4 linked regions of the Homo sapiens genome follow. The protein of the gene in region 1 interacts with the protein of each later gene in a pairwise test. Each region holds a gene or a part of one and is shown in the gene's direction. Other genes may lie near its edges. The genes, in order: NCS1, C1QTNF2, MICOS10-NBL1 and RNASEH1.

Region 1 (6,425 bases):
TTTTTGAGGTGGAGTCTCACTCTTTTTGCCCAGGCTGGAGTGCAATGACGTGATCTTGGCTCACTGCAACCTCTGCCTCCTGGATTCAAGCGATTCTCCTGCCTCAGTCTCCTGAGTAGCTGGGATTACAGGCACACACCACCACGCCCAGCTAATTTTTGTATTTTTAGTAGAGATGGGGTTTCACCATGTTGGCCAGGCTAGTCTCGAACTCTTGAACTCAGGTGATCCGCGTACCTTGGCTTCCTAAAGGGTTGGGATTACAGACATGAGCCACCTCACCTGGCCTGAGTATGGATTTTTGGTTCTTTGGGTATATACCTAGGAGTGGAGTTGCTGGGTCATATGGTTAACTCTATGTTTAACTTTTTGAGGAACCACCAAACTGATCTCCAAACTAGTGACAGCATTTTGCATTCCCACCAGCAAAGGACAGAGGTTCCAGTTTCCCACATCCTTGCCAACGCTTGTTATTTTCCATGAAAAAAAAAAAAAAGGTAGCCATCCTAGTGGGTGTGAAGTGGTTGCCTCACTGTGGTTTTTTGTTGTTGTTGTGGTTTTTGTTTTTTGAGACAGGGTCCCACTCTGTCTCCCAGGCTGGAGTGCAGTGATGCAATCTCGGCTCACTGCAACCTCTGCCTCCCAGGTTCAAGTCATTCTCCTGTCTGAGCCTCCCAAGCAGCTGGAATTATAGGTGTGCGCAGCCACGTCCGGCTAATTTTTGTATTTTTGGTAGAGACCGGGTTTCACTGTGTTGGCCAAGCTGGTCTTGAACTCCTGGCCTCAAGCGATCCTCCTGCCTTGGCCTCCCAAAGTGCTAGATTTACAGGTTTGACCCACCACTCCTGGCCCTCCCTGTGGCTTTGATGTGTGTTTCCCTAATGACTAGGGATGTTGGGCATCTTTTCATGTGTTTATCGACTGTTCTATGTGTTGTTTTTAATGGTTTGTAAACTGTTTTATCCTGTGGGTGTGTCCTAATGTATCCCACCACTCCTCTGATACTGGACACTTAGATTGTTTTCTCTGCTTCCATTTTTGTTTTCTGTTTTCTGCTATTACAGATGGTGCAGTGGTAAACATTTATTTATTAAGGATAAATATAGGCTGGGCACGGTGGCTCACGCCTGTAATCCCAGCACTTTGGGAGGCCGAGGCGGGTCTATCATGAGGTCAGGAGTTCGAGACCAGCCTGGCCAAGATGGTGAAACCCTGTCTCTACTAAAAAATGCAAAAAGAAATTAGCCAGGCATGGTGGCGGGCGCCTGTAATCCCAGCTACTTGGGAGGCTGAGGCAGGAGAATCGCTTGAACCCAAGAGGTGGAGGTTGCAGTGAGCCGAGATTATGCCACTGCACTGCAGCCCAGGTGACAGAGCAAGACTCCAACTCAAAAAAAAGCAAACAAAAAAAAACCAAAAAACCCAAAGGGTGCCTCAGAGGTTATGCACATTTTTAGGACTTCTGACATAGAATGCCAGCTTGCCATCTATCGACCTTCCTGCCAGCTCTCTGTGCCTATCCTCCGTGGCCAGACCTTAACCCCTATCCGCTGTGGCTGGATCTTAACCCATCTTGCCTCCTTGTGTCTTCCAGATGCCTGGGAACCACTCACCTCCTTCTGTGCCATGAGGCCACCTCAGCCCTGACACCAACCCCGTGCGTCCACCCAGCCTTCTTCCGCATCCACACACAGCCGGCTGCCCTTGACCCGGGAGGCCCCGGCTCTCCTCTCCCCTGTCCTGCACCCATCCCCCGCCTGAAGCCACCGGCTCCAATTGCCAGCAACCTCTGCTTGTCCGGAAAACGACAACACGAAATGGAAAAGGCTACAGCCCTCTGCATAAACCAAGGACTTGGCTGCCTCGCAGGCAGCCTCCGTTCCTCCCGCTCTCTTGCGCGTGTGCTTTTGTTTTTTATTTTGAACAGACGTTTTAAAAGAAAAAAAAACAACTACCTTCTGTCCTAGAAGACACAGACTGACAGATGGGGTGAAGGCCTGGGGACCTCAGAGAACTCTGCCTTGCCCTCGTCCCTCGTCCTTCGGCAGCCGGAGAGGCTGTGGGTGGGCCGAGGGTGTCTAGGGGTTCTGCCTGGTCAACGTTATTTGTCGTCCCATCTTTTGGCAGCAAAACCACCTGCGTGGCTAGGATGATTAATTATGAGGATGATGATTTTTTTTGTGATAACAGTATTGTGCTTTTTGTGGGGAAAGTGAGGTTTTTTTTTATATACATATATAATTGATATCTTTAATTTATTGGTTGTTAACTGTTGCTGCTGCCTGGTGTGTCCTCAGCTCCCAGGGCTGCGGGCCCACCGTTTACATGTGCACGCCCTGACCCACCTGCCCACGCCGACTTGGGAGGATGGTGGCCTGCAGCGGCCAAGAAGCCAAAAAAAATTTTTTTTTTTTCAGATACTGTGCTTGATTTTTGGAGAGGGGAGAGGTGGAAATTCCTAAATGGCTAATGCACTGTTCCCTCCAGCCCGAATGCCTCCTGCCAAACCCCTTTTCCCTGCTGCCTCTGTCCCCGCATCCTTGTTCTCCCCTGGGTCCGTAACATTTTTTCCGAGGATGAACAGGGGACATCTTTAGGTTTCTCAACTCTTGCTTTGGTGTTTGCCGCAGCATGGAAAACAGGGCGCCTAAGGCTGGGAGCTGGAAGAAGGGGCATTGGGTACCCAGGCAGAGTCAGGAGAGGTGGTCTTTGAAGTAAGTTAGCAGAAATCAAGGGGACCCCCGCCTCCTTGGGCTGGGGAGGGGATTTCAAGATAGTTCATGACTCTCTCCCGCTCTGCCTTCCCTCCTTCCTATCTGCTTTTTCCAGTAAACTGCATGGTGTCCTTCCCTGGCCTTCTCTTGGCTCAAAGGCTGGGAGGGAGGGAAGGAGAGAAGAGTTCCAGGCAATCCCATCAATATAGTCCCTACACCTGGGGCTGCGGCCCACATGTCTTCACGGAGGCTTCCAGCGGTGCCTGCCACTGAGGCAGGTGCGGCCCCAGGACCATCACCAGGAATGCGAGGCCACCCTGGACCAGAGGTAGGAGCCCAAGGTCCGGCCCTTGCTCTTTGATTGTGGGCAGCCTCCTGCCCTCTCTGGGTCTCAGTTGCCCCATCTGCAGAGCGAGGAGGCCCGGGCTGGTTGGTCTTGAAGGCCCTTTTCCATGCCGACATCATGTCACTCTAGGCCTGGGGTTCAGTTTCCTGTGGCTGGTGATGCTGTGGTTAAGTTTGCTTGACCCCAGCAGCCCGAGGGACTGTCTGAGTCACAGCACAGCCCCTATTGCGTGGCTGCTGGTGTGTGGGGTCAGTTCCAGCAGATGAATGTGTCATGTGGCACACCTTGTCCCTTCCCGCAGCATTTCCTGGTTCCCCCCAGACCCTTGAGCGCTCTTTGGGACCCAGAAGGAGTCCTTGCACAGGGAAGGCTTGAGGTGAGAAGCCGCTTCCCAGACTGTCAGGGCCAGGCCTGGGTCTAGAATTCTTGCTGCTGCTTTGCAGAGTCAACAGCCCATCAGCCCATGTTTTAGAGGGGACACTTTGGTCCTCGGTTCCCACCCTCAGCAAGCAGGCCTCCAGCCCGAGGAAGGCCTCTGCCGTAGTGACGTTGCCGTGTGGGGCTGCGTGGCTGTTCCCCTTGGCTGGAGCATTCAGCCAACCCCAGCGTCCCCCCTGAGGCGTTCATTGGCAGCCCCCTAGGACTGCACGCTGGCCCCACGGTAACCCCCCCTCCCCCACCAACATCCTGCAGGGATGGGGTCAGTGGTTCCACCTTCACAGGCCACTTTGAAGGGTGGATTCTTTGAGGCCCCTGCCAGTCGGCTCCCTGCTCAGCTGCTGGCCCGGGCGACCTGGGACTCAGCACCAACGGCTGAAGTTTCTCAGCTGGGCTCTGACCTGGGGTCTGGGGCAGGGAACGAACATGGTGGCTTTGGGCTGAGAGGATGAGGGAGGTCTTTCCCAGGTCAAATTACTTTCCTTTGGCCTCTGCCTGAGGCTCGATTTGCCTCTCTGGTCCAATGGGACTGACACTGTTGTACAACCTGACCTGTGGCTGAGGGTGTCTGGGCTTAAGCATGTGGACCCCTTCGGTGTGTCCGGCCTTCCTCCATCGTCCTGCCCTTTGGCCTTTTGGTTTGAAGCCACAGGTGTGGCTTCTGGCCTTAGCAGATGGTATGCTTGCGGACCGCAGCCCAGCATGCCGGTGGGCCCACAGCCCGAGCCAGCCCAGAGCTGCCGGAAGGGCCGCCCTTCCCGGCCCTGGCGGGGTGCTGGACACTGGCCATTTTCACTAGAGTTTGCCTGGCAGGGACCGATCTCTGCCCCCTCCTCTCCCCAGGCCTCTGGCTGCAGTGATGCCGCAGAATCCTGAGCCAGGTGCCTCCTGAGCAGCCCGTGCGCCTCTCCACAGCGGCGTTTGCCACCCAATGCGGCTCGCTTCAGATGCTCTGATGCAGAGGGCACGCCCATAGTCCCTCTGCAGAGCCTCGCACTGGGGCCAGGGCAGGCACCAGCCCCAGGCGGCCAGTCGGCCACGGCCTGTCCTCTTCCTCGTAGCGTCTGCTCCTCACTTTGTGTTGATGGTGACTTAGGAGAATGTTCCGATTTTCCATGATCTAAGCAGGCCACGTTTAAAATAACATCAAGGCAAGCGTACGTGTCACCCTCTGTACTGACATCTCTTCCCCTGAAATGCTTTTCAGTTTGACAGCCCGTTTCCTAGACAAGTGCACCTGGGGTTTCAGGAACTTTGTGTTTTTTCGGAGGGGGTTGGTGGGGAGGTCGGGATGCCTGGGATCCCTTCCTGGAGAGGCAGGCTGTCTCTGGAAAAAGCCTCCATTGCCCACCCGCCAGGCGGAAAGTCACCCTGTTCCCAGCGCGGTTTCAGCATTTAATTTTAAGGGAGCTAAGGAAGCGCGGCGCGCCCCCTGGTGGTGGTAAGCCGCCAACGCACCTGGGGGCTGCAACCCCACCGGACGGGTGGTCCGGAGGGAGGCTGGAGCGGGGAGGCGAGGAGGGGGCTGTGAGTCCTCAGAGGCCCTGGGCCACCACATTTCTGGCAGCGTTTCCCAGACACCCCTCTGCTAGGCCATCCCTGGATAGCAAGTGAATTAACTTAAGGGCACTGTGATGGGAAGCCTTGCCCCCCTCTTTTTTTTTTTTTTTTAATATCTGCGGAATAAACCCAATGGTTAATTTTTGAATGAATAAAAGGCTTTTGTTGAATAAACAGCTGGTCCCATCTTCTGTCTTGGCATCTTAGCATCCAGGCTCAGGCTCTGCCCCTTCTCCAGGATGGGGTAGCCCCGAGTCGCCCTCCCCAGTCTGCACATTCCCTGTTGTCCCTGTTCCTGCAGTGGCTCCCGGCCCCAGGGAGGCCCACCTCACTCCCAGCCTGACTCGGTGGCTGGCTTCCTTCAGGACTTTGCGCAAGTCAGTTCTGCTCATTGGGTCTCAATTTCCCCATCCCTTGGATGGGAGCAAGAGTCTCTGCTGGGCCTGCCTCGCAGGGGCCTGGTGAGACCCAAATGTGAGTGTCATCATCAAAGCCCCTCACAGAAGTGGAGGACGGTGCCCAAGAGTAGCGGTTTGGACTGCTGCTGCCTCCCACCCGGAGCCTGCCACTTGGGGGAGAAATTGGTATAATGCTTGCAAAAACAAACAAACAAAAGGCAATGTCTTCTGGTTGTGGTTATTTCCTTTCCTGCTTGCCTCCCCAGCCCCCTTTGAGTCTCTTTTTGGGGTGCCGTCCTGTCTGAACCTGCCGGTGTGTGTCTCTGGGGCCAGGGTCAGGGCGAGGCCCAGGGGTGGACAGGGGCCGTGTAGCATGCCCCAGCCTCCCCAAGCTCCTGCTGTATGTCGTCCATGTCACGCCAATTAAACACGCTTCCTGGACTTGTCCTCGCCTCCCTGTGTGGGCCTGTTGCTTTGTCTGTTTACATTCTTCTCCGTTTCGTTTTAGGTTTCTTCCCTTTGTGACACCCTTTCTCTGGCTTTGGGTGTTGTCTTCCCAGTTTCCTGAAGAGAAAGAATGTGTAGGCCGGGTGCAGTGGCTCATGCCTATAATCCCAGCACTTTGGGAGGCCGAGTTGGGCGGATCACCTGAGGTCTGGAGTTCGAGACCAGCCTGGCCAACATGGTGAAACCCCGTCTCTACTAAAATACAAAAATTAGCTGGGTGTGGTGGCAGGCGCCTGTAATCCCACCTACATGGGAGCCTGAGGCAGGAGAATCACTTGAACCCGGGAGGCGGCGATTGGAGTGAGCTGAGACCACACCATGGCACTCCAGCCTGGGTGACAAGAGCGAGACTCCATCTCAAAAAAAAAAAAAAAAAAAAGAGAGAGAAAGAATGTGCAAAGTGAGAACCTTGAGTATACTTTTAAACCAGAAAAATCTGCAGGAGTGTTTCTGCGAGGCCTA
Region 2 (6,850 bases), on another chromosome or scaffold:
TGTCCCAGCTGGGGTCGAGGAGGGCTGCTACTAGTAGGTAGTATCTAGTGGGTAGAGGCCAGAGATCCTGCTAATCCTACAATGCATAGGACAGTCCCCTCAACAAAAAAAGGCTGAGTTTAGGCTTTATCCTCTGTTACACAGGGAAGCATTAGAAAGATATTTAGAAGGACTAAGGTAGCTTGTACATACCCTGCTCCTTCTGCCTGGCACCACTCCTCACCTTGGCTACCTTTGTATGACTAGCCCTTTTTTATCCTTTGGGACTCAGCTTAAATATCACCTACTGAAGAGATCATCTAGACTTTTCAATCAAAGTAGGTTATCTCACAGACTTCATACCGTTATTCTTTCCCATGTTTCCCTCTTATTTTCACCACAATTTTGAATTATATGTTTATTTGGTTGCTGGTTTCACATCTGTCTCATAAGGAGAGACCTTCCTTATTCATTCATCACTGTGAGCTCAACATCAAGCAGAGTGCCTGGTGCATTGTAGTTGCTGATATTTAATCAATGATTAATCTGAAGGTTGATGGGAGGATTGAAATGGGGTTGAGCATAGGAGGTGGATAGAAAGAGGAAAGAAGGCAGTCCTCTAGATTTCTTCTCTGCTTGTTCTGATCCACACTCATCTCCTTTCCCTGACTTTCACAGCACCTATAGTTCATAACATGACATGTCAGTTAGGATTTTAAGCAGACATGAATTTAATAAAAAGAATCAAATAGACTCAGAACCATTGCAGAACAAGTTCTGGCTTGGGCTTGCAGGAATGAGTCCCAAAACCTGCCGTCGTACTAACCCCACCACCCCAAGGGATGTGGCCTTCTGCCACAATCAGGAGGCCGGCGACTGGCCTAGTCTGACTACAAGAACACAACATCTTAGGTGTAATCTGGGGATCAGGAACTGGCAGAACTCTAGAGTCACACTGCATCTTCCAGGTCACCACCAGCAAAGTGGATTCCTCCCAGGCTGCTACCTCCTCTTCACATAACTGTTTTTGTTTTTTGTTTTTCTGAACACAATTTTGAATTCAGGTCTTTCCCAGGTGCACAGGACTGGCTAAACCTAAATTATAATGGGAGCCCCAACAGCAAGGAGTCTAGGAAATGGATTTTTAGCTTTCTAGTCTCTGTTGTATAGGAAAGCACACCAAGAAAAGTTTGGACAATTGTGGAACAAGCCAATCTGCCACATCTGCCTCATGGCTGCCCCGCTCTGTGGCCATCAATGTCATAATATCATTCGTCTTCTCTAGGTGGATACTAGCATGTTCTCTAGATGTGAATGGATGTGAAATGAATTGAATGAAATCGAAGGGGAAAATCCTCCTCTTTCATGTTCACACTTTGCACCTTTCCTATGGCACTTAATTGTATTTTGCCTCCTGGTGTAATTTGTGTTCTCATTCAGAAGTTCATCTCTTTGTCCCCATACTCATAATAGGTAATAAATGTTTATAGACTGTGGCCGGGTGCAATGGCTCACGCCTGTAATCCCAGCACTTTGGGAGGCCGAGGCAGTTGGATGACATGAGGCCAGGATTTCAAAACCAGCCTGAGCAAAATAGTGAAGCCCCATCTCTACTAAAAGTACAAAAATTAGCCTAGTGTGGTGTTGCGCGCCTGTGGTCCCAGCTACTTGGCAGGCTGAGACGGGAGAATCGTTTGAACCCGGGAGGTGGAGATTGCAGTGAGCTGAGATTGTGCCACTGCACTCCAGCCTAGGCAACAGAGCAAGACTCCATCTTAAACAAACAAACAAACAAATGTTCGTAGACTGAATTCAAGCAGAGAGTAAAGACAGAGAGAGGCTAGGGAGAGGAAGTTCTAAGCCCCATTCTAGCTTGACACAGTTCCTGCAGCTCGTGGAACTGCCACCGGACAAGTATTTTGGATTGCATGCTACATGAAGCCATCACCACTGCAAGGAACCATAGGACAGGGACCCAGGAACTCTGCTAGGCTTCAGGAAACCTAGGTTCCAGGTATCCTTCAAAAGTTGGAAAAACATGTGCCCCCATTCATTCAATCAGTAGTGTTTATTAAATGTTTCACACTACCAGGTATAGCAGCACTGCCTTTCTTAACTTTTCATTAACCTTTTTTTTTTAACCAATGAGAGCATGCCAGTGATTTCAACCTCTGTCATGATGGAGCCACATGGATAACACACAGATATTACCACTCTACTCTAGGAGAGGGGCTTTCCTGAGCCCTTTAGATTCTGAATGGCCTCCAGGCATTCTAAGCAGTTTCCTCACCTTTCCAATTGCTGACACATCTGACCCAAGAGGCGGTGGATGGAAGTTTCCTTTCCAGCCATCTGTGTATCAACACCCTAAACTCCACTCCACATGTTATCATTCCTTCATTTTTTGAGCTCACACTTCCCCTACATTCAGACAAGTCTCAGTCATCTCTCAGGGTTCACCTGAAACATCAGTTTCCCAGGCCTTCCCCTGACTGCCCAGTTTATACTTTAAGCTTTTCTTTTCTATAACACTCATTTCACTTGTAACCACTTGTGTCATCCCCAGCTGGAGGACTCTAAGTTTCATGAGGGTAGGCATCAAGCCTATTTGTTTCCCTCTATGTCCCCAGCACCTTGCTTGGGGACTGACACACAATGGATGCTTATTAAATATTTGTTGAATGAATGTTTGTTAAGCCTACAAACTTTCTTTCTCAAATAGTATTTATGTGATATTAGTAATAATTCCCTACATAGTTCAATGGCTTACCAAACATCTTTATGAGTTAGTGTCCCAACTTTGGGGTAAAGGCAGTGCAGGTAATATTATTCTCCCATTTTTTTTAGAAAATAAAACACCATCTGTGAGATTATCTGACTTGATTAAGGTGGTGGATACAACATTAGAATTCAAATGCATATCTGTATTAAAATTCTGACTGTAAATTTTGTGTCACTTACCAGCTGTTAACCAGATGCTCTGGCTGTGCAGAGTGAAATATGGGTAGCTAGTGGAAGAGAGCAGTGGAAGGAACAGGGAGAAGCAAAAGCCAGGCCTTGGAGGATTTCCTTTCCTCCAGTGCCTGCTTGATTCCCAAATAGGATTGCTTTGCCTATCCTGGGAGCTGAGACCCTCCATAAGTCTCTCAATGACTTGAGGCTGGGCCAGAGTGAGTGAGACCAGTGAATCCTCACCTTCTGGGGAGAAGAGAAATGAGAGCTGGTACACAGGGGAACTCACCCACACTAGTGTGTATGTGCACACTCACATCCGGACAAAATCCACACCAAGGCATGCATAGAAATCAACACATAGAATGAGCCACTGCACAGTCATACACACATTTAAACATACACCCCACATACAGATGTCAAACCAACACACAGAATGAGCCCCTGCACAGTCACACACACATTTAAACATGCACCCCACATACAGATGTCTAGCCACTATCGTGTACATCCAACCACTGATGTGCCCTCCAGTTTTACACCAAGCTGCCATCTTGGACATGTGCATGCATGTGTACATACACCGAACAGCCCTGATGAAAATTTGGATAAACGCACGTACGCACACACACAACTAAACACATCCCTATGATTTATCATCACACTCAAGTACATGCACACCTTTGCAAACGCGTGGGAAACAATCACTCTGATCACTCTGGCGCACAAAACCTCCAAATACGCTAACAAGCTCTACAAACGCAGAGATGCATCGACACACCCGAGTTGTCATCAGCACTGCAAGTTTTTTCCAAACAGCTGCTAAAAAGAGAATGCTGCGCTGCGGGCCAGCCCACGTGACCGGGAGGAAGGCTCTCCCGCCCATGACGGGATGGGAAAACTATGCCTGGGGCCGACGCTCTGCCCGGCTGCTGCCGCTGAGGAAAGCCGGGACGCGGAGCCCCGCCGAGAGCTTCTTTGCTCCGGACGCCCCTGGACGTGGCGGGCAGCCGCGAGGGTGAGTGTCCCGCACCGCGGTCGGGCGGGGGCGGCAAGTGCGCGCGGGGAGGAGGAGGAGGAGGACTCGCACTGCTGCGGGCGGGGCGGGATGCGGAAGGTGGGAGAGCTGCCAGCGCGCCTTTATTGCGGGCTGGGCAGCTCCTGCATTCCTGCCTCTCGACTTCTACCTTCGTATTATAATACAAATTAACATGTTTTGAGTCCTTACTGTGTGCCAGGCTCTGTGCCCAGTGGTTTACCCGTTACAATAGTAACACCCGTAGCTCTGCCATTTATTGAGCGCCTACTTTGTGCCAAGTCCTGCTAGCACTTTACTTGTGCTCTTTCATTTTCATGACAACAGATTATCCCCGTCTACAAAAGAGGAACTGGGCTCAGAGACATTAATGACTTGGACAGGGTTGCACAGCTAGTAATTGATAAAAAAGGGACTTGAAGTCTGGTAAATCTGAGTCCAATACCCGAGCTAACAATCACAGTTAACATTTACTGAATGCATTATTTCACTTAACCTTCACATTTATTTAAATATATGATACAGACTGGCAAACTGAGCTCAAAAGGTATTGAACGGCAGGCAGAGATTTGTACTCAATGCCTCATGACTCTCTTCACTCTCCTTCCCCACCTAAACTACTTGTCTTAATATGCTTTGTCCTTATTTCTCCATCCCCACTGCTGCTGCCCCATTCTAGGACCTCGCTTTTCAGCTAAATAATTGCAGTGGGCCCTAATAGTCTCCCAGCCCAGGTCTCTCCTCTGACACCATGAGTCCCTTGCATTACCTCATTGTGATCCTCCTCTGCTCCTTGACCACAAAATTGCCCTGCTTGGAAGCCTGCAGAGGTCCCTTCCTTAGACTGGCCATCTCTCAGAGACCCTGTGTTTCCACCATGCTGAAGTAGCAGTAATAGAAAGACAATGTCTTACATAGGTCAATCCAAGGCTGGTGCTCAGTTAGCACTGTTAAAAATCTGTCCTCTCACATCCTTATTTTTGCCCTCCCTCTGCACCATTCTCTAATTTATTCTGTCATCTGGAGTAATTATATCAATTACTCCTGCTTTCAACTGCCCGATCCTCAAACTCTCCACACATTTCCAAGCATCACTACAGCCCTTCATTGTAACACATCAGATTCACTGCAGAATTTGTTTCCTCCCAAATGTCTGACTTCTCCCCATCTCCTAGCAGGGATACCACACTTACCAGTCTTCCAATCCTTAAACCTTAGGTTTACCTTTTGTTTTAAATGTTATAAAAGTAACGACGCTCATCACAAGAAATTCGAACAGTTCAAAAAGGTAGAAAGAGAAAAGTAAAAGCCCACACACCCCCTCCCAATTCTGAAAGGTAACCCCTTAACAAGATTGTGTCTTTTCGGAAAGTATTTCCCCAACCCTTCTGTACATATATATACTCTGTATTTGTGCTGTTTTTTTTTTTTTTAAACTCAAAGAGAAGCATACTTTACATTCCATGGTACAACTTGCTTTTTTCACTTAACAGTGTGTCTTCGCCATGTTTTCATATCTGCATATACAGGCTTACTTTGTTCTTCTAATGGGCATAGTGTGTCATTGTATGGATGAACTGAGATTATTTTTCACAAGGCTGGAGTCACGTTTGAAGCCACTCTGTCTCCATTGAATGTTCAGCAAGTTCTCCAAGGTGTCACTTTTTTCCTCTGCAAATCTCCCTATTCCTCCCCCCTGTCTCGCTATTCCTTCTCTTATGCTGACCCTGCTGATCAGACAGTCTCTCCTGCTGTCTCAATCACTGATGCTTCCTACTCCTAAATGTTCACTGTGGGGTAACAGAGTCTCTCTCCACACCCACAGCTTCACCCACTCCTTCTTCCTGGTCAAAGGCCTGCCAACCTTAATTTACCTCTGTGAGATGAACTCTTGCATAAATCAAACTTCTGTTAGTTATATTCCATTTTAGCTTCTCTTTTTTTTCTTTTTTCTTTTTTTTTGAGAAGGAGTCTCGCTCTGTTGCCCAGGCTGGAGTACAGTGGCACAATCTCGGCTCACTGCAATCTCCGCCTCCTGGGTTCAAGCAATTCTTCTGCCTCAGCCTCCCCAGTAGCTGGGACTACAGGCGCACACCACCTCACCCAGCTAATTTTTGTATTTTTAGTAGAGACGGGGTTTCACCATATTGGCCGGGCTGGTCTCAAACTCCTGATCTTGTGATCCGCCCGCCTCGGCCTCCCAAAGCGCTGGGATTACAGGCATGAGCCACCGCGCCCAGCCCATTCTAGCTTTTCTTTTGAAAGGAATTATGTGCCAAATATTTTTTCAAGCAAATAACCTTCCCCTGGATTTGTTCACTTCTGTTAAGTGGCTTACTCCTATAACACACATACACATGCGCATACACATCACTGCCCTGTTAGTAACTCCCCTGTTAGCTGAGGGGCCATGGTGGAGGAACATGAGCTCTGGGCCCTGAGCCAGCAGGCCTGAGTTCCACCCAAACATTGACCTAGGAAAAGTAATTTTTCCCTTTTCTGAGCTCTGTTTTCTCTTCTGCCAAGTGGAGATGACAGTATCAGCCTCTTAGAAGTGTGGGGAGATTTAAAGGAGATATGAACATCAAAACTTTGAAATAAGAACACACAACATACATGGAGAATCATTACTCTTTTCCTCTAGATTAGGGGTTGCAAACCCAGATACTGACAGAGACTGTGCACAATGTATATAGGAATGGGATGCATGACATTTGGGAGTGGTGAGGACTGTGGACACTGTAGAACACAGGCTCTCTGTCCTAGTCAGCGTGGGGCACCGTGACAACACCACAGACTGGGGAGCTGCAACAATAGACATTTATTTCTCACGATCCCTAGAGGCTGGAAGCCCATCATCAAGGTATCTGCAGTGTTGGTTTC
Region 3 (7,064 bases), on another chromosome or scaffold:
TCTTCAAGAAGTACAAAAACTCCAGAGTTTTCATTCATCTTATTCATTCAACCAACAAATATTTATCAAGCAGACACTATGTGTGAGATAATCTTATAGGGCTAGGGATATAGCAGTGAACAAAACATTGTATTGGGGAAGGAATGGTGGGAAAACAGAACAATAGAAAGAAGGCTAGGAAATGGGAAAGCTGGGATCTGCACCCAGAGAGCCTGGCTCCAGATTCATGCTATCACATCTGCCTCTGATTGCTTTTGTAATTTGCTCTCTACCTTTTGCAAGAGTTTACAACTCTCTTGAATCCAATAAAAATGCCTTTGTCAATTTTAAATCTACACAACGTGGAGCTTTGTGCATCTTCTGTGTTGCTTAACTTCTCGGAGACTCAGTTTCCAAATCTGAAAACGAAGATGCTAATCTTGACCTGCTGTGAGAATAAATGAAATTATGCGAAGTGCCTGCAGCTATTTATGACACACCATAGGTATTATTTATTTAGAGACAGGGTCTCGCTCTGTCACCCAGGCTGGAGTGCAGTGGCACCATCACGGTCACTACAGCCTTGACCTCCTGGGCTCAAGTGATCCTCTTGCCTCGGCCTCCCAAAGTGGATTACAGGAATGAGCCACTGCACCCAGCCATGTGATAGGTATTTTAGTGAAGTTTATTTTCTTTCTTTTTCAACAGAAATGTTACACTACACAGTTTCCCCAGAACAGGGACTTTTTCTCTTTCTGATTAATTAAATCATTTGTTCATATATTTATTCTTTTTTTTTTTTTTTTTTGAGACAGATCCTTGCCCTGTCGCCCAGGCCAGAGTGCAGTGGCGCCATCTTGGCTCACTGCCAGCTCTGCCTCCCTGGTTCACGCCATTCTCCTTCCTCAGCCTCCCGAGTAGCTGGGACTACAGGCGCCCGCCACCATGCCCAGCTAATTTTTTGTATTTTTAGTAGAGACAAGATTTCACCGTGTTAGCCAGGATGGTCTCGATCTCCTGACCTTGTGAGCCACCCGCCTCGGCCTCCCAAAGTGCTGGGTTACAGGCGTGAGCCACCGTGCCCGGCCTTATTTATTAATTTTTATGTCCATTCGACAAGCATTTATTGAGAATCCGATATATACCAAGCTCTCTGCTAAGCATTAGGGATACAGAAATGGCACGGCCTCCATTCTCAATTTGCTCACAGTCAAAATCCAAAAGACACACAAATAATTGTTAAAATTACAAACAATTATTAAAAACACAAATCATCTGATAAGTAGCTGTGATGAGAATTAGAAGGGGCTGGGCATGGTGGTTCAGGCCTATAATCCTAGTACTTTGGGAGGACAAAGTGGGAGGATGGCTTGAGCCCAGGAGTTCGAGACCAGCCTGGGCAGCATAGCAAAACCTCACCTCTATAAAAAAGGAAAAGCAAAGAAAAATTTAAAGAATAGGAAAAATAGGGCTGGGCATGATGGCTCAAGCCTGTAATCCCAGCACTTTGGGAGGCTGAGGTGGGTGGTTCACCTGAGGTCAGGAGTTCAAGACCAGCTTGGCCAACATGGTGAAACCCCATCTCTACTAAAAATACAAAAATTAGCTGGGGGTGGTGGCACGTGCTTGTAATCCCAACTACTCAGGTGGCTGAGACAGGAGAATCTCTTGAACCTGGGAGGCAGAGGTTGCAGTGAGCCAAGATCATGCCACTGCACTCCAGCCTGGGTGACAGAGCAAGACTCTGTCTCAAAAAAAAAAAAAAAAAGAAAGAATAATTTAAAAAAATAGAGAACTAGGAGAAGGGAAGGGTGGTCATAGAAGTTATCTTGAAGGAAGAGGCTGTCGTAGCAAGATCTGATACAACAGAGTTTTGCTGTCATAGTTGCAAATAAATAGTTGAACGATGCCTGTAATCCCAGCACTTTGGGAGGCCAAGGTGGGTGGATCACTTGAGGCCAGGAGTCAAGACCAGCCTGGCCAATATGGCGAAACCCCATCTCTACTAAAAAAATACAAAAAGTTAGCCAGGCGTGGTGGTGGGCGCCTGTAATCCCAGCTATTTTGGAGGCTGAGGCAGAAGAATTGCTCAAACCCAGTAGGCAGAGGTTGCAGTGAGCCGAGATCGTGCCACTGCACTCCAGCCTGGGCAACAGAGCGCGACTCTCTCTCAATAAATAAATAAACAAATAAATAGGTGAATAAATTCAATTCAGTTCAACAAATATTTCATAGAAGACCCTACTATCCAAGGCATTGTGCTCTGACTGGAAGTATGAAGACGAAGGGGCAACTTCTAGTTCTACTAGCAGATAATATCTACAACCAGATGTTTCAGTACTAGATAGAGAAATCAATGCGGGTAGGCAGGGTAGTGGGACAATGAGAAGGGGAAGGCAGCTCTAAGCTCTATCTGACTAGGCTTCCTAGAATCAGTGCAGTGTTGAAGCTTGGATAGATCCAGTGTATGAATGGGAGTCATTGACAGCTTTTTTTTTTTTTCTTTTGTGATAGGGTATCACTCTGATGCCCAGGCTGGAGTGCAGTGGCATGAACATGGCTCAGTGTAGCCTCCACTTCCCAGGCTCAAGTGATCCTCCTACCTCAGCCTCCTAAGTAGCTGGGACTAAAGGCACACATCACATTAGCCTGGCTAATTTTTTAAATTTTTTGTAGAGACAGGAGTCTCACTATGCTGCCTAGGCTGGTCTTGAACTACTGGCCTCAAACAATCCTCCCGCCTCAGCCTCCCAGAGTGTTGGGATTACAGGTGTGAGCCACTGCTCTCGGCCTTCATTGACAGCTTCTAATCAGAGGCATAACGTGGTCAGATTTCTATTTGTTGGTAGGATGGAAGACTAAAATCAATGACACTAGCCAGTAGGCTGGATATACAATCTCTCTTGATAGCTGTGGGCATTTGGTTTCAGGATCTCGCAGTTACCAAAATGCAGGATGCTCAAGTCCCATATATAAAATGGCGTGGTATTTGCATACAACCTACACACATGCTTACATATCCTTTTTTAAAATTACTTATTTTTTTTTAAAGAGATGAAGTCGAACTCCTAGTCTCAAGCAATCCTCCCATCTCAGCCTCCCAAGTAGCTGGGACTACGGTCGCATGCCACTGCGCTGGCTCCCATATACTTTAAATCATCTCTAGGTTACTTATAATACCTAATACAATGTAAATCCTAGGTAAATAGTTGTACTGTATTTTAAATTTTGCATTATTTTTTATTTGATTCAAAAATGTTTCTGGTCCATGGTTGGTTAAATCCATGGATGCAAAACCCACAGATACAGAGGGCACCCTGTGTATGTATGTGTATGTGTGTGTGTGTGTGGGTGGGTGTGTAAATATATACATGGATAGGAGGCCTGAGGTAGACGTTTTACCTGGAGATATAATTTGGCAGTGTTTGCAATTACTCAGGGAGAGTCTGTACAGTGAAAAGAGAATTGATGGAAGCTTGCGAACCAACAGTCCTTAAACAGCTGGCAGAGAAAAGGCAGCCCTGGAGGAAACCAACAGACAACAGCAGATGGGGAGAAGAGGAAAGAGTGGCGTTACCGGGAGTGAAACGAATAGAGGAGCCAGGGAGGATCAGAGGGAGGGAAAATTGTGTGGAATGCGGTACAGAGGTCAGAAAAGAGTCCATTTGATTTGGCGGTAGGTAATCTTTCCCAGAGCAGTTTCGGTGTTAGTGGTTCAGGCGGGAATTCCAATGCAAGAAACCAGTGAACGAATGAGAGAGTGAGTAGGGAAAGTGAAGGTGAGTACGTTAATGAATGAATAAATCAAGTCTGTACCCTCTCTTGCCCGGGGGATTTCCAGGGCCAATGTCGCACTTTGGTGAGGAGGAAAGGCCTGGTCACGGCTTGGGGTGACGCCTAGGAAACTGTCAGCCTCGCAAACCCATAGGCGCAGCCCCAAGGTCAGGGTCACCTCGAGCCTCCAGACAACTCGTCACCTTGACGACCAACTGAAAAAACCGGAAGGGATGGAAGCAGCGGATCATCTCGCGATATCTGGAGCGTCTGCGCCTGCCTTCCTGACCTGGGACTTGTTTCCAGCTCTCGCGAGACTTTCAGGGGTCGGAGCGCGGGGGCCGGCCGAGAGGAAAGCTGGAGGCGCGGGTGGGGAACATGTCTGAGTCGGAGCTCGGCAGGAAGTGGGACCGGTGTCTGGCGGATGCGGTCGTGAAGATAGGTAAGGGGCTTTTCGCCCCAGCAGGCCCGGCCGGTGCAGAGCTGCTGGCTCCAGGCTGCGCTGCCCAGGAGGAAGGAAGGGAAGCCCCACGGGAGGTCAGGCCTCTCGGCCTTTTCCGGCCCCTCCGGCCAGGGCGAGCCGCCCGGGCCCCGGCGGGAGGTCACTCGGGCGGCGGGCACAGACCCGAGGAGCCGGAGCAGCAGCCCGGGTGCGGGGTGGAGTTGCAGCCCGGAGGAGGTGGTCGGGGTTGGCAGGTGGCAGGAGAGTCGCAGAGCTCTTGAGTGGAAGACAGTGTCGGGGCACACCCTCGTGCCGGAGCCGCGGGGTTCTCCTCCCGGGTGGTGCATTCCCCGGCACGCGGCGGGGAACCGGCTCAGGAGGCCACGCTGCTCCCCGGCGGAAACCAAAGTGCCTTCTGGAGAAGGTCACCTGGAGCATTTCATAGACACCGCCAGGCCCTGATGCGAGTTGCTGTCATTCCCGACTTGCCACCTGATTTATTTGAATCAGAGTAGTCTGGGGCCTGAACTTAGAGGGGTGATGATCTGGAATGAGAATTGCGCTGGAAAGTAAGAAGTTGTTCACGTTAAGTTTTTCTGCGTAGTCCTTTAACACGTGCTCAGTGACGGCACAAATTATGAAGTCACTGTATGGTGGGGAGGAGAAAGGAAACTCGTTTATTGAGCGTATATTGTCTTCATTGTGCGAAATAATCTTTTTACAGGCCGTGAAATGGAGAGTCAGGTGAAGGAATTTGCCCACGGTCACAGCTAACAAATGGCAAAATTAGGGATTTTACCCAGCTTTTCTGGGGTCAAGTCCCATGTTCCTTCTTCGATGCTAATTTTTGTTACCCAAATGTGATATTTTTGTGTGGTAATCTTAGGGTATTTAAGAGGATTTAGGATTGTGTCTTTGAATGAAAACATTGAGGAATAAGATTGTAAGCTCCATGAGAGCAGGGATGTTTTCTGGTTTAGTCACTGCCCCATCCCCAGCCCCTAAAAGAGTGCTTAATAAAAATTGTTGAGAGTGAGTCAATAAATGAAACAGTTTATAAGTTACCATTTCACCTCTGAATTCAGCACTTACAGTCAAGTGATTTGGGGCAAGTTATTTAACTTTTCTGTGCCTGATTCCTATTTGGAAATCGGCAGTAATAATTATTACTATCTCATGGAGTCGTTGGGAGGATTAAATGAGTTAGTTTGTTTAAAGGCTTGAATATGGATCACTTAGGAATGGGTTATTTTGGAAGCGACTAAACAGTCACTTTTGTTTTGTTACTGTTAACAGCTTGCAGTTCAGAGAGAAGACTTAACACCTAGCTATGAAATGACCAAAGTAGTTACTAGGCAATGTCATATAGTTAAGAAAGGGCTTTGAGCTGGGCGAAGTGGCTCAGGCCTGTAATCCCAGCACTTTGGGAGGCCGAGGCGGGAGGATCGCCTGAGATCAGGAGTTGGAGACCAGCCTGGGAAACAAAGTGAGACCCTTCCCTTAAAAAAAAAAAAAAGGAGAAGAAGAAGAAGGGGCTTTGGAGGTAGACAGAGCTGAGTTCGAATCATCCACTCTCACTCTTCTCGCCCATCCTTACTAATTTTGTAGCTTTGGGTAAAGTCTCTTTCTCAACTACGAAATGGTGATCAAAAGAGATTTACCTGAAAGTATTAAAAAAAGTAAAGGACAGAAAAATACATAAGCTACTTAGCACAGTGCCTGGTGCTTTATGTATACAGTAATGGTAGTCATAATAACTGGCTTTTAAAATTTTTTAATGTATTTTATTTATATTTATTTTTAATTAACTTATTTTTTTTATACAGGCAGGGTCTCCCTATGTTGCCCAGGTTGGTCTTTTAACTCCTGGGCTCAAGCGATCCTCCTGCCTCAGCCTCCCAAAATGCCAGGATTACAGGCATGAGCCAATGCGCCACACTCATAGTAGTTGTTTTTTATTTTTTGAAATAGGGTCTCGCTCTGTCACCCAGGCTGGAGTGTAGTGGTGGGATCTCGGCTCACTGCAACTTCTGTCTCCTTGGGCTCAAGTGATCCTCCCACCTCAGCCTCCTGAGTAGCTGGGACTATAGGTGTGTGCCACCATGCTCAACTATTTTTGTATTTTTTGGTAGAGACGGTGTTTTGCCATATTCCTCAGGCCGGTCTCAAACTTCTGGGCTTAAGTGATCCATCATCCTCAGCCTCCCAAAGTGCTGGCATTACAAGCTTGAGCCACTGCACCCAGCCAATAGTTGTTGATATTAATATTATTGTGCTACTGAAGACCACGTGAGGCAGTGAATAGTGTCACTCTGTCTCTCATGCGTAGAACGTTGATAGGGGTGCAGCATATACATGTGGAGTAATTAAATGAGGCAAGGTGATGTACGATCTCAGGTATAAGTTAAAATGAGTGATTCAGACTCTTTTGCTGTAGGGTTGTATATTAAGTGACTGAAGGGATGGGCTGAGGTCATTCAATAAGAGTGTGGAAGGGCCTTCAACTGACCTTTGTAGAATGGCTTGGGATTGAATAGTCAGGTAGGATGGAAGAAGAACTTAAGCAAAGGTCAAGTTGGATTTTTATGAGGAGTAAATCGAAGCGCAGAGAGGTTAAATATCCAGAAGTGGAGGAGCTGGGATTAGAACCCAGGCATCCTAATTTCAGTGCAGAGAGGCTGGTTTAGGTGGAGTCAGAACTGTGAAATGTCTTAGAGAGATTCCATTTTATCTTGGAGGTGTTTGAGTTGCCTGTTGACTTTTTCACATGCTTTCTGCGTATTCAGCACCTCTGCCTTAAAAATCTATTGCTTCCAGGGCTCACTAGGCATAGGCTGGTGGGTAATCATGGGATGGTTTCAAGCAACAA
Region 4 (7,968 bases), on another chromosome or scaffold:
GTCTAATGAGTGCCCAGGTGGTGCTTTTGCTGCTGATCCAAGGACCACACTTTGAAAACCATGACTTAGGTTTAGGAGGACGGGCTCTGGAGGCAGGTTTGAGTCCTGGCTGTACCACTTCCTGTCTACATGTCTGAGGACAAGTGACTTAATCTTTACATTTCAGCTTTCTCAGCTATAGACAATATAATATTGAGAGTGCAAATTAGTTCAACCATTGCGGAAAGCAGCATAGTGATTCTGCAAAGAACTTAAAACAGAACTACCATGCAACCCAGCAATCCCATGACTGGGTATATACCCAGAGGAATCTAAATCGTTCTACCATAAAGACACATGCAGGTGTATGTTCACCACAACACTATTCATGATAGCAAAGATGTGGAATCAACATAAATGCCCATCCACAGTAGACTTGACAAAGCAAATGTGGTACATTTACATCGTGGAATACCATGAAGCCATAAAAAAGGAACGAGATCATGTCCTTTGCAGCACTATGGATAGAGGTGGAGGCAAGCTAAGGCAGAAACAGAAAACCAAACACCGCGTGTTCTCACTTATAAGTGGGAGCTCCACAGCGAGAACACAGGGATATTAGGAGGGGAACGGTGGGCAACGGGGCCTACCTGAGGGTGGAGGATGGGAGGAGGGAGAAGATCCGAAAAAATACCCATCGGGTACTAGGCTTATTCCTCAGTGATGAAATTATCTGTACACCCATCCCCCATGACATGAGTTTACTCATGAAACAAACCTGCACATGGACCCTCAAACCTAAAATAAAAGTTAACAAAAAATTTTCCTGACCAACCTCTTCAGGAAGAGGGGCAATCCTCGTGTCACAAGCAATGCCAATAAAGAACAGGAACGCCACCTTTTTCAACTCCTGAGAGATGAATCCAACGTCTGACCCTGCATTGCATGCACTCTCGCCCACGTCGGCTCTCATCCCCACACTCCTCGTTCCTGTCACCGGCCTATGCTGTAAACACCCTAGCAGTCACAATCAGTCACTTATCTGTCTTATGGGTCTATTATTTCATTCTCTGTCCTGCAACCGAAGCTCTGCGTTGTCTTACCCATGTTTAGAACAGCTCCGTTCAATGATGAGAGTCACACAAGCCATCTAAACTTTTCTGGTGGTCACATTAGAAAAGTAAAACAGCAAGAAATAGTTTTATTATTATTATTAAGATGGAGTCTCACTCTGTCACCCAGGCTGGAGTGCAGTGGGACAATCTCGGCTCACTGTAACCTACACCTCCCGGGTTCAAACGATTCTCCTGCCTCAGCCTCCCAAGTAGTTGGGATTACAGGCACTCACCACCACACCCGGCTGATTTTTGTATTTTTAGTAGAAATGGGGTTTCACCATGTTGGCCAGGCTCATCTCGAACTCCAGACCTCAGGTGATCCACCCGCCTCAGCCTCCCAAAGTGCTGGGGTTACAGGCATGAGCCACTGTGCCTAGCCACTAATTTTAAATGTATTTCTTTAACCCAATATATTCAAAATATTATCAGTTCAACCTGTAATCAATATACAAAATTAACAATGTGTTTTAATTTTTTTGGCAGTAATGAATGCCATGTTGGCTTTTATTATTTTTTTTTTCTAATTTTAAGTTCCAGGATACAAGTGCAGAACATGTAGGTGCTATATAGATAAACATGTGTCATGGTGGTTTGCTGCACCCATCAACCTGTTGTCTAGGTTTTAAGCCCTGCGTGCATTAGCTATTTGTCCTACTGCTCTGCCTCCCCTCGACCCCCACCCCTCTTAAAATTCTTTTTATTTTTCACACTGAGTCTTCAAAGTCCGGTGTGTATCATACAGCACATCTCAATAGCCACATGCAGGCAGGGCGCGGTGGCTCACGCCTCTAATCCCAACACTTTGGGAGGTCGAGGTGGGCATTGGACGATGCAGGTCTGGACAAGTGCCTGGTATATTGTGGGCACAATTCTTGAATGGACCCTGAGAAATAAGCAGAAATGGTTTTGTTATTCCTAATTTACAGAGTATAATAGATAATGGCAATAGTGACTTTTATTTGAGTTTATGTCATGTGTCAGGAATAGGCTATGCATACATTTATTATTTCATCTAAAATCTCATCCTCAAAACAAAAGCCTTTTGCAGTGGGAATTATCACTCCCATTTTTTTTTTTCAGTAGAGAAAATTAAGTTTCAAAGGAGCTAAGTGACTGAGACCACATATACACTCATCTTCTGATTTCTGATCCAGTGTTTGCTCAGGATAAGAAATGTCCTATATTTCTATGAGCCAGAGATTAAGATAAAAAAAGATTTTCAGGAGTAACCAGTCAATGAAAAGTCAAAATAAATAGTTTTGGCAGCCGGGCGTGGTGGCTCATGCCTGTAATTCCAACACTTTGGGAGGCCGAGGTGGGCAAATCACTTGAGGTCAGGAGTTCAAGACCAGCCTCACCAACATGGTGAAAACTTGTCTCTAAAAATACAAAAATCAGCTGGGCGTGGTGGCGCATGCCTGTAATCCCAGCTACTCGGGAGGCTGAGGCAGGAGAATCGCTTGAACCCAGGAGGCAGAGGTTGCAGTGAGCCAAGATCATGCCACTGCACTCTAGCCTGGGCGTTGGAGTAGGACCCGGAAAAAAAAGAAAAGAAAATAAAGAAAGAAGAAAAGGAAAGAAAAGAAAGAAACAAGAAAAGAAAGAAAGAAAGGAGAAAGAAAAGAGAACAAAGGAAGAAAAGACGAAAGAAGGAAAGAAGAAGGAAGGAAGGAAGGAAGGAAGGAAGGAAGGAAGGAAGGAAGGAAGAAGGAAGAGAGAGGGTTTTGGCACTGTGGAAAGTCATGTGGATGATCCTGCAAGCGTCCTCAGGTAATTCCAACCTAGGACTTCTCAGGGAAGATGAGTCCTTGTGATACAGGACCAGCCAGTGGGCACAGAAAAGCAAGCCCTTGGTAGGTCAACCCTCAGATATGCTGACGAGGTGGGGGCAGCTGTCAGGTCATCCTGAGAGCCTTCCCGGGCATCTCTGGGCTTCCTCAGATATCTACACAAGGGTAGGATGATCAGTCATAAATGGACTTTAGGGACAGCTGTGTGTGTCTTTTTATTTTAAAATAAGAATCCGTCTTGAAGTGCAATAGGTAGGAATGAGGAATGAAAGCTATGGCCAATTTAAATTAAAATTAGGAAAGCTGAAATGTTTAAAATTGATGTTCTTTGGCCAGGCACAGTGGCTAATGCCTGTAATCCTAGCACTTTGGGAGGCTGAGGCAGGCGGATCACTTGAGGTCAGGAGTTCGCAACCAGCCGGGCCAACATGGTGAAACTCTGTTTCTACTAAAAATACATAAAAATTAGCCAGGCGTGATGGCGGGCGCCTGTAATCCCAGCTACTTGGGAGGCTGAGGCAGGAGAAATGCTTGAACCCGGGAGGTGGAGGTTGCAGTGAGCCCCAATCGTGCATCGTGCCACTGCACTCCAGCCTGGGCGACACAGCAAGACTCTGTTTAAAAAAAAAAAAAAAAAAAAAAAAAGATGTTCTTCGATTTCACAGAGGAACACAACTTACCACGCCAATGTACGCGTCGCTTTTGCCTGGGCCGTTCCTTCTTCCTAGAATGTCCTGCTTCTTTCTCTTTGTCTAACTCATGTGAATGAACTTTTTAAAAAATTAGTATCCTTCAAAACTGTATTTGCTCAGGCGTTCTGATGTGAGGCCCTCCTGACTCTCCAGGTGCGGGTGCTTCTCTGCTCTGTGTCTCTCACCTCCAACAGCTTGTTCTGCCTGCGCACTATTTGCTGATGTGTTATCTCCGGGGATTCTCGAATTTCTCACCTTCATCCCCAAGGCCTGACAAAATACATGGCAGGTGTGCAAAAGGCTTGTTAGAAGACCTTAAGAAAATTAAAGAAAAGTGGTTTAAAAATAATTCGAATAACAATGTTTGCCAATGGAGACTTTTTTTTTTTTTTTGAGACGGAATCACGCTCTGTCGCCCAGATGCAACCTCCACCTCTCGAGTTCGAGCGCCTCTCCTGCTTCAGCCTCCTGAGTAGCTGGGATTACAGGCGCAGGCGACCACGCCCGGCTAATTTTTGTATTTTTAGTAGAGACAGGGTTTCATCATATTGGCCAGGATGGTCTCGATCTCCTGACCTGGTGATCCACCCGCCTTGGCCTCCCAAAGTGCTGAGATTACAGGCGTAAGCCACCACGCCCCTCCAACCCATGAACACTTTTAAAATTACTTGATTTGCTTACAGAGCAAAAGGTCAAATGGGGAGAATTCTAAAAGTTACCTTCTCAACTCAGTTTTCTCCCGGGTCGTGGTGCTTGAGGCACTGGATATCCCCTGGTTAAACACCCACGTGCAGTGGAGCAGGGAGGGGACGCGCCCCTTCGGGGGTGGGCGCCCAAGGCAAGGGGAGGAATGCGGCTTCCACGGCCTCCCCTCTCGCCCTCCTTTGTGCTTATTCTAATTCATGAATTCTAACATCTTTCTGCCCACTAAAAAATGTGCATTCATTCATCTGGCCACAGCCCTTACTGTAGATCCGCATCCCTGGAGCTCTCGAGGAGCCGCGGTTACCGCACGTGGGTGCCGGGCGCCAGGGGGTTCAAGGGCTTCCCGCGGTGACCCGAGCACGCCGGGGCGTGGCCCCCGAACTGCGGCCTGGGGGCGGGGAGAGAAGGGGCCCAACATGGTCCATCTCGACCTTCCTCTGCCGGGCCCAGGGCTTCAGCCCCGCTCCCATAGGCCCCGCCCCATCCCAGACCTCGCCCGCCTTCGGGATCTCAGCCCTGGCTCCGCTTCTTCAAGTACCGACAGGAAGTTGACGAGTTCGGGCTCGTCAGGGGCCGAGCTCCGGGCTCCGCCCTACGACACCGCCCCTCCCTAGGCCCCGGCCCTCATCAGGACTCCGCCCAGACGTGCGTCATCTTCCCGCGCCGGTGACGGAAGTGCGGTGTTGAGCGCCGGCGGCTCGCGCCCACGCTGGGCCGGGAGTCGAAATGCTTCCCGGTGCCGGGAGTGAGCGATGAGCTGGCTTCTGTTCCTGGCCCACAGAGTCGCCTTGGCCGCCTTGCCCTGCCGCCGCGGCTCTCGCGGGTTCGGGATGTTCTATGCCGTGAGGAGGGGCCGCAAGACCGGGGTCTTTCTGACCTGGTGAGTGGCCCGCCCGCCGAGGCGCCTCCCTGCCGGCATCGGGGTCGAGGGAGGCCGGAGCCCGGCTAACCCCGGCGGCGGGAGCCTGGCGGTCCGAGTCTGTGCCGCGCGCTGTGGCTGTGGGTGGTCGGGGGACCGCCTCGTTTTCCTGCTCGGCCGGCGGGGTTCCAGGAGGCTCATGGCCTGGGACTGGAACGCACCGAAGACTTGTTTGAAATATCAGAAACGTCGCGTAAAGGTTAGGGGTGGCCTAATAAACCCTGTGTTTAATCCTCCATCTTTGTTGCAGTTAAAGTGCAACAAAAAGTGACACGTAATCAGAACGAACCCCCGTTACCAGAAGACTTTCCGTACCAGCTAAATTGGGATTGGAACTCAGTACCTAATCTTCCCTTTTAAAAAAGGCAAATTCTAATAAGCCAGTATTTGCAGTTGGATCCTTGTAACAACCCTTGGAGGTGAGAGGGATTATTCTCACTTTCAGGTATAGTTCTTGGGGTCAGGAAGTTCCCAGGGCATGTAACTGACAGAGAAAGGACTTGAGCCCAGCTGTTCTGACTGTACCACCAGAACTCTTCCCACTACAAGATACCAAAGTTCGTTACCTGTGTTTCCCCATGCACGGCAGCTACAGTATTGAGGAAGAAGCATCTCAGAAGTTGACCTTTTTGTTGTAAAGAAATGGTTAATATTTTTTTCAAAGACCGCAGTATTTTGTTATGCTTTGAGTTTGACGAAAGCCTTATGGTGCTGGTGTGCTGGCTGGCTGGCATACAGTAGAACACAGGTGTAGAGTCTGACGTGCAGGATAAAACTATAAGGTGCGACTCTGCCCTTTTCACGCAAAAATTGGTCCTCTATATCCAGTTTGCATCCTCAGTTTCAGCTAACCATAGATCAAAAATATTTGGAAAAAATTAAAATAGAATACAGTTTTAAAATACGCATAAAAAGACAATACAACTATATAGATTGTATTAGGTATTATAAACTAGAGATGATTTAAAGCATGCAAGAAGATGTGTGTGGGTTATTTGCAAATACACCATTTTATGCAAAGGACTTAAGCATCCTCTGATGTTGGTATCTGTGATGGGGTGGAGGACTTCCTGGAATCAGTCTCCCTCAGATACCAAGGGACAACTGTATTTCCAACCTTAAGAATCTCAATAAAAAAGGGGATAAGTTAGAGAAGGAAGAAGGAAATAACATTGCACATCTTTTCCAGGAATGAGTGCAGAGCACAGGTGGACCGGTTTCCTGCTGCCAGATTTAAGAAGTTTGCCACAGAGGATGAGGCCTGGGCCTTTGTCAGGAAATCTGCAAGCCCGGAAGTTTCAGAAGGTAGTCACCTCTCATATCAGTGTGACATTTTAACCTATTCAAAGGCTTTCATATGCCAGATGGCATTTGATCTATATAGCTACCCTCTAGGCATGTAGGGAACCTCGTGTGATTGTTTTCATTTTACAAATTAGGGAACAGACTGAAAGCAGTTACAAATAGTGGTTCATATTACTTACAGTATTAGGGATAAGCCAGGACTCAGCTCTCCTGTTCCATTCAGCCTTTTATGCCATAATTCCTTGTCTTTTTTTAAAAAAATACTTGTCCAGCCTGGCCAACATGATGAAACTCCATCTCTACTAAAATACAAAAATTAGCTGGGCATGGTGGCGCACACCTGTAATCCCAGCTACTCGGGAGGCTGAGGTGGGAGAATTGCTTGAGCCCGAGAAGTGGAGGCTACAGTGAGCCGAGATTGCACCACTGCACTCCAGCCTGGGTGACAGGGCAAGACTCGTCAAAAAAAAAAAAAAAAAACTTACATAGTTATTGGACTGGATGGGCTACAGTTTACAGGAATGAGTGTGGTTCTTTCCATGGCATGCCCCTTTGTGGTGTTGCCTTTTTATTGAGAACAGAGTCACACAATCTGAATTTCTTCTTTTTTTTTTTCCTTGAGACAGAGTCTCTGTTGCGCAGGCTGGAGTGCAGTGGCACAATCTTGGCTCACTGCAGTCTCTGCCTCCTGCGTTCAAGCGATTCTCCTGCTTCAGCTTCCGGAGTAGCTGGGATTACAGGTGCGTGCCACCACGCCCGGCTAATTTTTGTATTTTTTTTAGTAGAGATGGGATTTCACCATATTGGCCAGGCTGGTCTTAAACACCTGACCTCAAATGATTCACCTGCTTTGGCCTCCCAAAGTGTTAGGATTCCAGGCATGAGCCACCACGCCTGTCCAATTTCTTCCAATTTTATGTGTTATAGAAAGTACGGTTATTCAAAGTTTAAAGCCCAATATAAGATTAATTCCCAATATAATTGGAAGTTTAAAGCCCATTATGCAGACTCAGATGAGCAGGGTGACGACTTTAGAGCGCAAGATTTTAAAAATATTTCTGGATCTACACTGAGGAGGTGATCTTACGTGAATGTTACTTACAAACTTTTTACTATAGCAAATTAAGACTGAGCAGAGCATAGTTTTAATTACCTTATCTTGAACAGCCTCTCTAGAGGCCACTGAGATGCTTGAACCTGAACAACTGCTCCTTCGAATCATCGTAACAATCCTGGACAAAGCACAATTCAGAGCGAGGCAGGTTGTGTCCAGAATGGATCCCTGAAGAGTTAGTTTGCAAAGCAGGGTCGACCCTCACTCAGTGCATCTGCTTCACCCTCTCTCTCTTCAATAGCTTTTAAAGGAGATTCTGTTTGAGAATGAGGACACGTGAAAAAGGCTCATCGATGTGACAGTTCTTACTGCTTACTGCATGACAGCCAATAAGCTGAGAGACAAG

The links.
Region 2: the proteins of NCS1 (region 1) and C1QTNF2 interact in binary tests that used the Homo sapiens proteins (3 or more experiments, as listed by UniProt).
Region 3: the proteins of NCS1 (region 1) and MICOS10-NBL1 interact in binary tests that used the Homo sapiens proteins (3 or more experiments, as listed by UniProt).
Region 4: the proteins of NCS1 (region 1) and RNASEH1 interact in binary tests that used the Homo sapiens proteins (3 or more experiments, as listed by UniProt).

Annotation. Positions count from the first base shown.
Region 1 is NC_000009.12:130,231,396-130,237,820, forward strand, and holds the end of NCS1 (neuronal calcium sensor 1), read left to right. Parts: intron 1-1,594; 3' UTR 1,595-5,908; downstream 5,909-6,425. UniProt on the Homo sapiens protein: Neuronal calcium sensor, regulator of G protein-coupled receptor phosphorylation in a calcium dependent manner. Directly regulates GRK1 (RHOK), but not GRK2 to GRK5. Can substitute for calmodulin. Stimulates PI4KB kinase activity.
Region 2 is NC_000005.10:160,367,611-160,374,460, reverse strand, and holds the start of C1QTNF2 (complement C1q tumor necrosis factor-related protein 2 isoform 1 precursor), read left to right. Parts: upstream 1-3,834; 5' UTR 3,835-3,949; intron 3,950-6,850. UniProt on the Homo sapiens protein: Involved in the regulation of lipid metabolism in adipose tissue and liver.
Region 3 is NC_000001.11:19,592,915-19,599,978, forward strand, and holds the start of MICOS10-NBL1 (neuroblastoma suppressor of tumorigenicity 1 isoform a precursor), read left to right. Parts: upstream 1-4,064; 5' UTR 4,065-4,131; coding exon of another isoform or gene 4,132-4,195; intron 4,196-7,064. Other genes in the region: MICOS10 (MICOS complex subunit MIC10), read left to right, coding at 4,132-4,195. UniProt on the Homo sapiens protein: Possible candidate as a tumor suppressor gene of neuroblastoma. May play an important role in preventing cells from entering the final stage (G1/S) of the transformation process.
Region 4 is NC_000002.12:3,555,329-3,563,296, reverse strand, and holds the start of RNASEH1 (ribonuclease H1 isoform 1 precursor), read left to right. Parts: upstream 1-4,963; 5' UTR 4,964-5,036; coding exon 5,037-5,164; exon of another isoform or gene 5,165-5,402; intron 5,403-5,453; exon of another isoform or gene 5,454-5,622; intron 5,623-6,392; coding exon 6,393-6,508; intron 6,509-7,968. UniProt on the Homo sapiens protein: Endonuclease that specifically degrades the RNA of RNA-DNA hybrids.